Homo sapiens: one gene and its partner. The protein of the gene in region 2 purifies or fractionates together with the protein of the main gene of each other region. This does not show direct contact. Each region holds a gene or a part of one and is shown on either strand. Other genes may lie near its edges.

Region 1 (3,500 bases), on a different chromosome or scaffold from region 2:
AAGGCATCCAGGAGGCCAGGCCGCTTGTCGGTCTATCTGGAGTTCAGATTTATCGAAGGCAAACAGTCCTCTAACCTCCATCTGGAGCACCCTCTGGGACAGTCAAATCCTACCCTTTGGGGTAAGAAATTGGCTTCCCCAGGCTCTGCCCCAGTATTAATCCTGCTTTGCTTGGTGCGCACCATTCCCAAAAAGCTTTCCACTTCCCACCTCATCTGTTCTTTACGACCCTGCCAGGTAAGCAGTTATCAACCCCATCTTAGAAAGGAGGAATCGGAGGGGGAAGGAGATTCAGCCACAGCTGACAGAGGTCCTGGCCTCCTTCTATTTGTCCCAGGGACAATGTCTGTCCATATCTGCATTTGTCCTGGCTTCTCTCTCTGACACACACACACACGCTTCTTCCAGTGGCTTCTGGAAAAAAGAATAAGCCCCAGAGTGAAGAGCTACCAGCCACCAGCTGAATGTTTGGGCACTTGAATTTCAATCTATGTTTCTGGGCTGTGCTGCTTTGGACCCGTGGTTCTGGAGCTGGGCTGGGTCCCCTGAACCTGTGGACATCTGGCAGCCTAATGCTGGGCTGAGTCCCAGGCATGAGGGAGGCCAGAAGGATAGGGCAGATTGGGTGAGAGGGGAGATAGTGAAGAGCCAACAAGGACAGAGGGAGGGCTGAAGCCAGAGGCCCCAGATGGGCCGGCTTGGCAAAGGAGGGCCTGGGATGCAATCCGCCGGCAGGCTGGGGCTGGAGAGGCACTGTTCTTGAAGAGCCTCAGGCCTGCTCTATTAATTCTAGCTCCTTTGGTTTTGGAATTGATTTCCCTGAGGGGTCTCCTTAGCCCTGGAAACCTCCCTCAGGGGCTTGGCTGGTAAAGCTGCTGAAGTCTGGAGGGGAATATACAAGCTGAGCAGGGCAGGGACAGCCGGCCTGGCTGTCAATATCAAGGCAATGCAGGGCTGGCATCTTGTTTGTGAAACGGGTCCCTTAGGCGGGCTCCCCCGGGGAGCCCCAGCTCTTCACAGACCAGCTGCTCCCCGCTGCCGGCTGGTGCAATCAGAGTCTGAGAAGCAGAGCCATAGCAGGCAAGAGCCCACCTGGAGGTACCCAGCGTAGAGCTGCTGCACGTGGACACTCCACAACCCAAGGACGCTGTTAGTGAAAAAACTGGGGAGTTGGGGGAGGGAGCAGAGGCAGGGGTGGGGGACATTTTCCAGGGCCTACCCCAGATGGGTCAGGCGGCTGTTCCCTGAGAGCCTCATATCCTGACATCACGCCACGCCCAGCTGAGAGGTATACAGACCCCCAGAGGTTCACTAACAGGGTTCAGAGAAAGCGCTCCTCTGACAACTTTAATCTTGGTTCCCAGTGTCGGACCCTGTTGATTTTAATGGGCCAAGACCCAATCGTTTTGATAAATCCTATGATTACCTTATAGCATTGTAACTGTTGTGTCATTTATATAAACACTTAATATACATCACATATTTTGTGACCCTATTTCAGCATGTGTTTCACTTTGGTATTGCAGGACCTCTCATGCAGCCGCCCAGGGCCAGTTGCCCAGGTTCCCGTTCATCTCTGAGAGGTGCTGCTGTTCTAAATTTCCTCCCCATTCCCTAAACCAGGGACAAACAAATGAGCAGTGACCCGTGCCCTGGAAGAGCCTGCCTGGGCACTGCAGTCTGGCCCTGAGTGGTCCTCAGTGTTGTGTGGGCTTGGAGAAGACTTCTGCCAGGTCACTGGGTTTCAGAGGGCGAGGATGGGAGCCTGCGTAGAGCCATCCTCAGCCCTTTGTGGCCTCTGTTGTTATTTTCAAAATCCTCAGGGTCCACATAGATAAGGAACAGGACTCAGTCCCTGTGAGAGGCTTTGAGCACCCCCTACGTCACCTGGGCCACTTGGAGGTGGACAGAAGCCCAGAAGAGTATAGGCAGATCCCCCCACCTGGAGACATATACATATTTCTTACAAGGGAAGAAAAGGTGTCTATCACATTGTTTTCTTCTTATATCTTTATTTATTTAGTTAGTTATTTTTTTAAAGATAGGGTCTGGCTCTGTTGCCCAGGCTGGAGTGCAGTGGTGCAATCATAGCTCACTGCAGGCTTGGACTACCTGGGCTCAAGCCATCTTCCTGCCTCAGCCTCTCAAGTAGCTGGGACTACAGGCGTGCGCCACCACACCTGCTTAATTTTTAAATTTGTAGTAGGGGGAGGGGGGGTCTCACTGTATTGCCCAAGCTGGTCTCGAACTCCTGGCTTCAAGTGATCTTCCTGCCTTGGCCTCCCAAGGTGCTGGGATTATAGGCCTGAGCCACTGTGCCTGGCCTCCCTTCTTATATCTTTATTGTTTTGCTGACTACACAGGAAATAGATGCTCTTGTAAAATTTTCAAGTGCTATGGAAATTAACTTAGAAAGTAAAAGAAAATCCCCTTTCATTTGGCTCATCCACTCTTCAGAGAGAGCCGCTATTATTCAGTTGTATTTTTCTAAATATCCTGCAACATACATATATCATTCATAATAAAAACGGGCTTATAATAGTGTTCAGCTACAGTTTTAAACAATATCTTAATAATACATCTTGGACATTTTTCCATGTCACTACAAAAGCTTCACTTCGCTCTATCATACTCCATCATAGGGATGACCATATTTATTTTTCTGTCCCCCAGTGAAGCACATTCTCCCCTCCACCCACTGAAATTGTTAGTATTTCCGAAGAACACTGTAATAGACATGTTTGTTCATATAACTTTCTGCGCACATACGAGTATATCTATGTAGGCTAGATTCTTGGAAGGGAGTAGGATGTTCACCTTGGCCCCATGAATGTCTGCTTGCCCCTGGAAGAGAACTCATCTTATCTTTACATTCTTAGTTGCTTTCAAAGGGGTAGCAAAAGCTAAGGCATTTCTCTTTGGAGCCACAACTTTGCTGCTCGCAGATGGTCAGTAAAATAGGAGCCCGGTGGCCTGTCTAATCAGAACCATAAATAAAGGACAGTGTGAACTCTGAACTGGGCATCCCTCAGCCACCTGGATCCTTTAGAGGGGGAAAGGTCCTGATACAGAAGTGTCCAGGAAGCAACAGAGCAATGGGCTCAGATACGTAAGGCCACGTCAGGGCCACTCGGAGCATGGAGGTGATGTTCGGAAGAGCCCTAGACCCCACCAGGGTCACTGGGTGGGCTTGGCTGTCATCTTCCCTACCTCAGCCTTTGAGAGACAACATTGGAACCCTCCCAAACGCATGCTCTTGGCTGACTGCTGAGGCAGAGTTGGTGGAGTGGTATTGCGGACTAGGAGACCAGATTCCTGGTTCCCCCTTCACCTCTTCCTGCTTTGCTGTGTGATCTTGTGAAAAGAATTTTGCCTCTTTGAGTCCTAGTTTCTCACTCTCCAAACATACACTTCTTCCTTTCTCTACCACAAAGCTAATAAGAATTTTGAAAATAATCCAACTCTTTAGGGTGATGGTGGCTTTTTCTGTTTTGGAATGG
Region 2 (4,064 bases):
CTTGAGCTGGATTCCAGCCGGGGTGCGCCCCAGCCCGCGCGACGATTCTGGGCGTTAGGAGGGAGAGTGGGCGGGCAGCTCCAGCCACGTGCAGTCTGGGCGGCGCCAAGGTCCCGACCTTTAACCCCTGACCCCGGTCCCACCCTCCACGTGGAGCGAGCCAAACTTCCACAGACAGACGCATGCAAGTCTTTCCACCGAAAAACCTGAAAACCTTCCGTGCGTTATCATGCCGGGTAACCAAGCCCACCAAAGTTAGCAAAGATGTTTAAAATGTTTTATTTTTTTTTCTTTTTAAAAATATTTACAGATCTGAACTCTCCCCTTTTCGTCCCTACCATCCTCGGGATGAGGGAAACGAAAAGAAGCAATTTAGTAATTGTCCAAAGCCTCTGAGGGCCTGGCTTGGCCGAGCGTGTATGCATGTACATATATACAGGTGTATATATGGGGGAGGAGTGTACCTGGTTTTGTAGGTGTTTTCCTGATTTTTTTCCCTACCAACCACAGCCTGTCTGGCCAAAACTCCCTTTCCCACCACCACCCGAGAACATCTCACTCCGAATGGTTTTCAAAGCGTACTGGTTCGGTCTAGGTAGGAAGCAGGCTCTCTGACTTAGGGAATGCCAATAAATACCCGAAACAATCAAAACAAAAAGTAGGGCAGAGACCATAAATAAGAGCTAATGAATACACATGGTGTATTTCTTCATATTTCTGGAAACACGCCGCCTTGCTCCGGAGCCCTGCTTACAGTACAGTACGCGCCCGGCTCTGCGGGCAGCTGGGGGCGGCGCGGGGCGGCGGGCCGGTCAGTAGTCGAGCTTGTTGTATAGGTTGTAGAGAGGTAAGGCCGAGAGGTTGCTTCCCGGGTAGTAGAGCGGCGCGGGAAAGGCGAGCGAGCGCGGCACCGGCACGCGCAGCAGCGAACTGTCCCGGAACACCAGCGGCATGCTCACCAGAGTCTGCGCCGACGCGTGCGCCATGTTGGCCGCCTCCAGCTCAGCCGAGAGCTGCCGCTTCCACTTGTTGCGGCGGTTCTGGAACCAAGTCTTTACCTGGGTCTCCGTGAGCTGCAGGCTGGAGGCGAGGCAGGCGCGCTCCGAGCTGCTCAGGTAGCGCTTCATGTCGAAGGTGGACTCGAGCTGGTACACCTGGCTGCGCGAAAAGACGGTGCGCGTCTTCTTCTTGGCCGCGCCGGCCTGCCGCTCAGCGCCGCCGTCCCGCGGCCGCTCGGACCCCGGCGAGGGCGAGCCCGCGGGCAGGAGCCTCTCTTTCTCTTCTTTAAAGTCCGAGTGCGAAGGAGAGAGGAAAGGCGTGCGCTCCAAGCCGCCCGGGCCCGAGCCTCCGCTGCCCTTGGGGGTACCTGAGGAGCGAGAACAGACAGAAAGGCCATGGAGTTGGTTGGGGAGCCTCGGAGACCGCCAGCTCTCCCTGGGACCAAGCGGTTGGCAAGCGCCTGCAGCCTTGGTCCCACCTTACCAATCCCCTCCTCTTATCCCTCTCACTGGCCCCCCAAACCCAGCACCCCGTCCTTTAAAAGCGACAAGAGAGGGACCCAGCTACTTGGAGTATGGGGTCTCTGTGCTCCCACCTTTATGAATGGGCCAGGGGCAACAGGGAGAGGAGGTCTGGAGGGGGAAACATTAGCATGGTTTTAAAAGGCGAATTTGCTTGGTGGTAATTGAGCTGGAAGAGTTCCTCGAGCTTTATAGGGTGGCATCATTTCACAGGCCGTTTGTTTGGAAATCACGCTAAGGACTAACGCAGGACTCCCCTTCGTCAAATGTTGTAAAGAGGAACCGTCTCTGAAATGCACCATTGTCAATCATCTTGGAGTGCTAATCATTCCAAGGAGGAGAGAGAGAGAAAGGCAGAGATACGGAGCGAGTGAGGAAGAAGACTCAGAAAGAGATTACGGTGGAGACAGACTGCCCAGACCCGACTTGCAGATCTCCACCTCGTGTCCGGAAAGAAAGTACCAGATGTGCAGTGATTGAGGACAGCCGGGTGTAAGGCCGGCCGCGTGTCCCTCTCGCTGTGGTCCACTCTCTCAACAACTCAACCTTCCCCAGGAAGCCCAAGCCGGCACGGGTCTGTGTTCGCCTGCTCCCAGGGGCCCACCGGGCGGAGGAGGCACCACAGTGCGCGCCCCTCTCCCCGCGGTCCCGAACCCCCGGCTGCCGCAGCTCTGGCCAGAGGGGGCCCGGCGCGGGAGTCTTGGCGGGGCGCTCAGCCTCCCTCCCCTCGCGCTCGCTCGCTGCCACACTGGCGACGTGCGATCCTTACCCAGGCAAGGAAAAGGGATGGGGGGATGGTGCTTGGGGCCCTGCTCCTTAGGGCCGTGCTGGTCTGGGCAGAAGCAGGCGGGCGCCTTCCAGCCGTCGTCCGGCTCCTCCTCCTCCGAGGACACGGACAGGCTGCGCTTCCTGGCTGGCCAGCCGACGGGCTCCCGCGGTGCCTCCGAGGGGCCCCCGCCCAGGATGGACTGGATGGTGAAGCTGGAGACGCCACCGGCCGCCGGACACCCCTTGCCCGCATCTTCTTTGCTGCCCATCCTGGGTTCATAAGAAATCGAAGGAAACCAAGAACTCCCTTTAGAGACGATCTGGGTGATCTGGGTGGAAGGTGGTGCAGCAGGCAGGCAGTGGGGAGGGGCGGGGAGGAAATCTAGGGGGAGGGGGCGCCGAGGCTGGTGAGGCGTCCCTTCCGCGCCAGGGACATGCAGGCACCGGATGGCTGCGCAGGGGTTCCTGCCCGCCTGGCTCTGGGTGCGCCCGCCCAGCCCCGGTGCAAATGCCCCTTCCTCGCCCGCCAACTCGCCGGGTCTCCGGCGGCGCGGAGGCGGCGCGGCCTCATTTGCATAGAGGTTACCCGAACGCGGCCAATCGCAGCGCCGCCGAGCGGCCCCGGAAAATTTCAAAACGCTCCGGCCAGGCACACAGCACCGGTGCGCCCCCAGAGCGCGCCGAGGGCCTGGCGGGCATCAGCGGCGTCTAACCAGGGGCAGCCAGGGCTGAAAGCAGCTGCAGATTCTAGCCCGGGTTCCTGGCGGCTGCGGCAACTCCGACTCCTTGGACCCCTTGGACCCTTCTCTCCAGAGGCAGGGGCGGTGCGGGACTCGGAGCTGGAGTGGCTCGACGCCTCCGCAGGCGACGGGTCTCCGCGCCTCCCAGGGGCTTGTACAGGCTGCTCCACCATCCTCCCCCAGCCCTCCACCCCTTCTAGCCCCAGTGGGCGGGCAAAGCCGGCACTCCTGGGACCGTGGCGCCCTGCGTGGGGGTGAGGTGGGTTAGGAGCAGGCGTCTCCAGGCGGACGCTCATCCTCTCCAGCATGGCCAGGAGCCTTGGGAGCAGACATTCCCCTTCCCCGTCTGCAGACCTCATCCCTGTCACAGGTTCTACGGACCTACAGAATCTTTAGGGGGAGGGAGGAAGCCCTAAGACCTCTAGTCAAGAGATCTGGGTTCAAATTCCGGCACAACTATTTACACACTGCATGAACTTGCACAACTCATGCCGATTAAAGCCTCTCTGCCCTCATAGTTGAAAATAACTTCTCGGATTGCCTCAGGTAGGGATTAAAAGCCTCGAAGCACTAGCAGCGCATAGTAGGTACTCCATAAACCTGGCCGGGTAGCCCATGGCCCACCCGTGTTTTAAGCGAATCTGTGTTTTTGTTTTGTAAATTTTGAAGGTTTCCGAACTGCTGCAGAAATAGACGCCTTACTCCCAGGAAGAAGATAAGGAACTGGTGACAGGACTCGGTTTTAGAATTGAGCAGACTCGACTCAATTCTCGGCTGGGTGATCTTGGGGGAAGACATTTGGAAATTCTGAGGCTCGGTTTCTTTATTCCTAAAATTGGAGGAAGCAGTGCCTCCCTCGCAGAGGCTGTTGTGAGGTCAAACTACCCAGCACCGAGCCTGGCACACCGTGGTGCTCAGTAAATAGTGATTCCCTCTGTGTTCTCATAGCCCCCTTCTGTGCCCTGGCTCTCGCCCCTTTAATTCCTAGATCAGCTGTTACCCGAGCTAGAATTAGCCCAGCCAAGCAAAGCGGTTT

The links. The genes of interacting proteins can lie anywhere in the genome.
Region 1: the proteins of HMX2 (region 2) and CALB2 purify together in Homo sapiens (affinity purification with mass spectrometry; one large-scale study listed by BioGRID and IntAct). This does not show direct contact.

What each region holds. Positions count from the first base shown.
Region 1 is NC_000016.10:71,361,723-71,365,222, reverse strand, and holds part of CALB2 (calretinin), read right to left. Parts: intron 1-3,500. UniProt on the Homo sapiens protein: Calcium-binding protein involved in calcium homeostasis and signal transduction. It plays a critical role in buffering intracellular calcium levels and modulating calcium-dependent signaling pathways.
Region 2 is NC_000010.11:123,146,872-123,150,935, reverse strand, and holds HMX2 (homeobox protein HMX2), read right to left. Parts: upstream 2,801-4,064; 5' UTR 2,558-2,800; coding exon 2,290-2,557; intron 1,367-2,289; coding exon 813-1,366; 3' UTR 264-812; downstream 1-263. UniProt on the Homo sapiens protein: Transcription factor involved in specification of neuronal cell types and which is required for inner ear and hypothalamus development.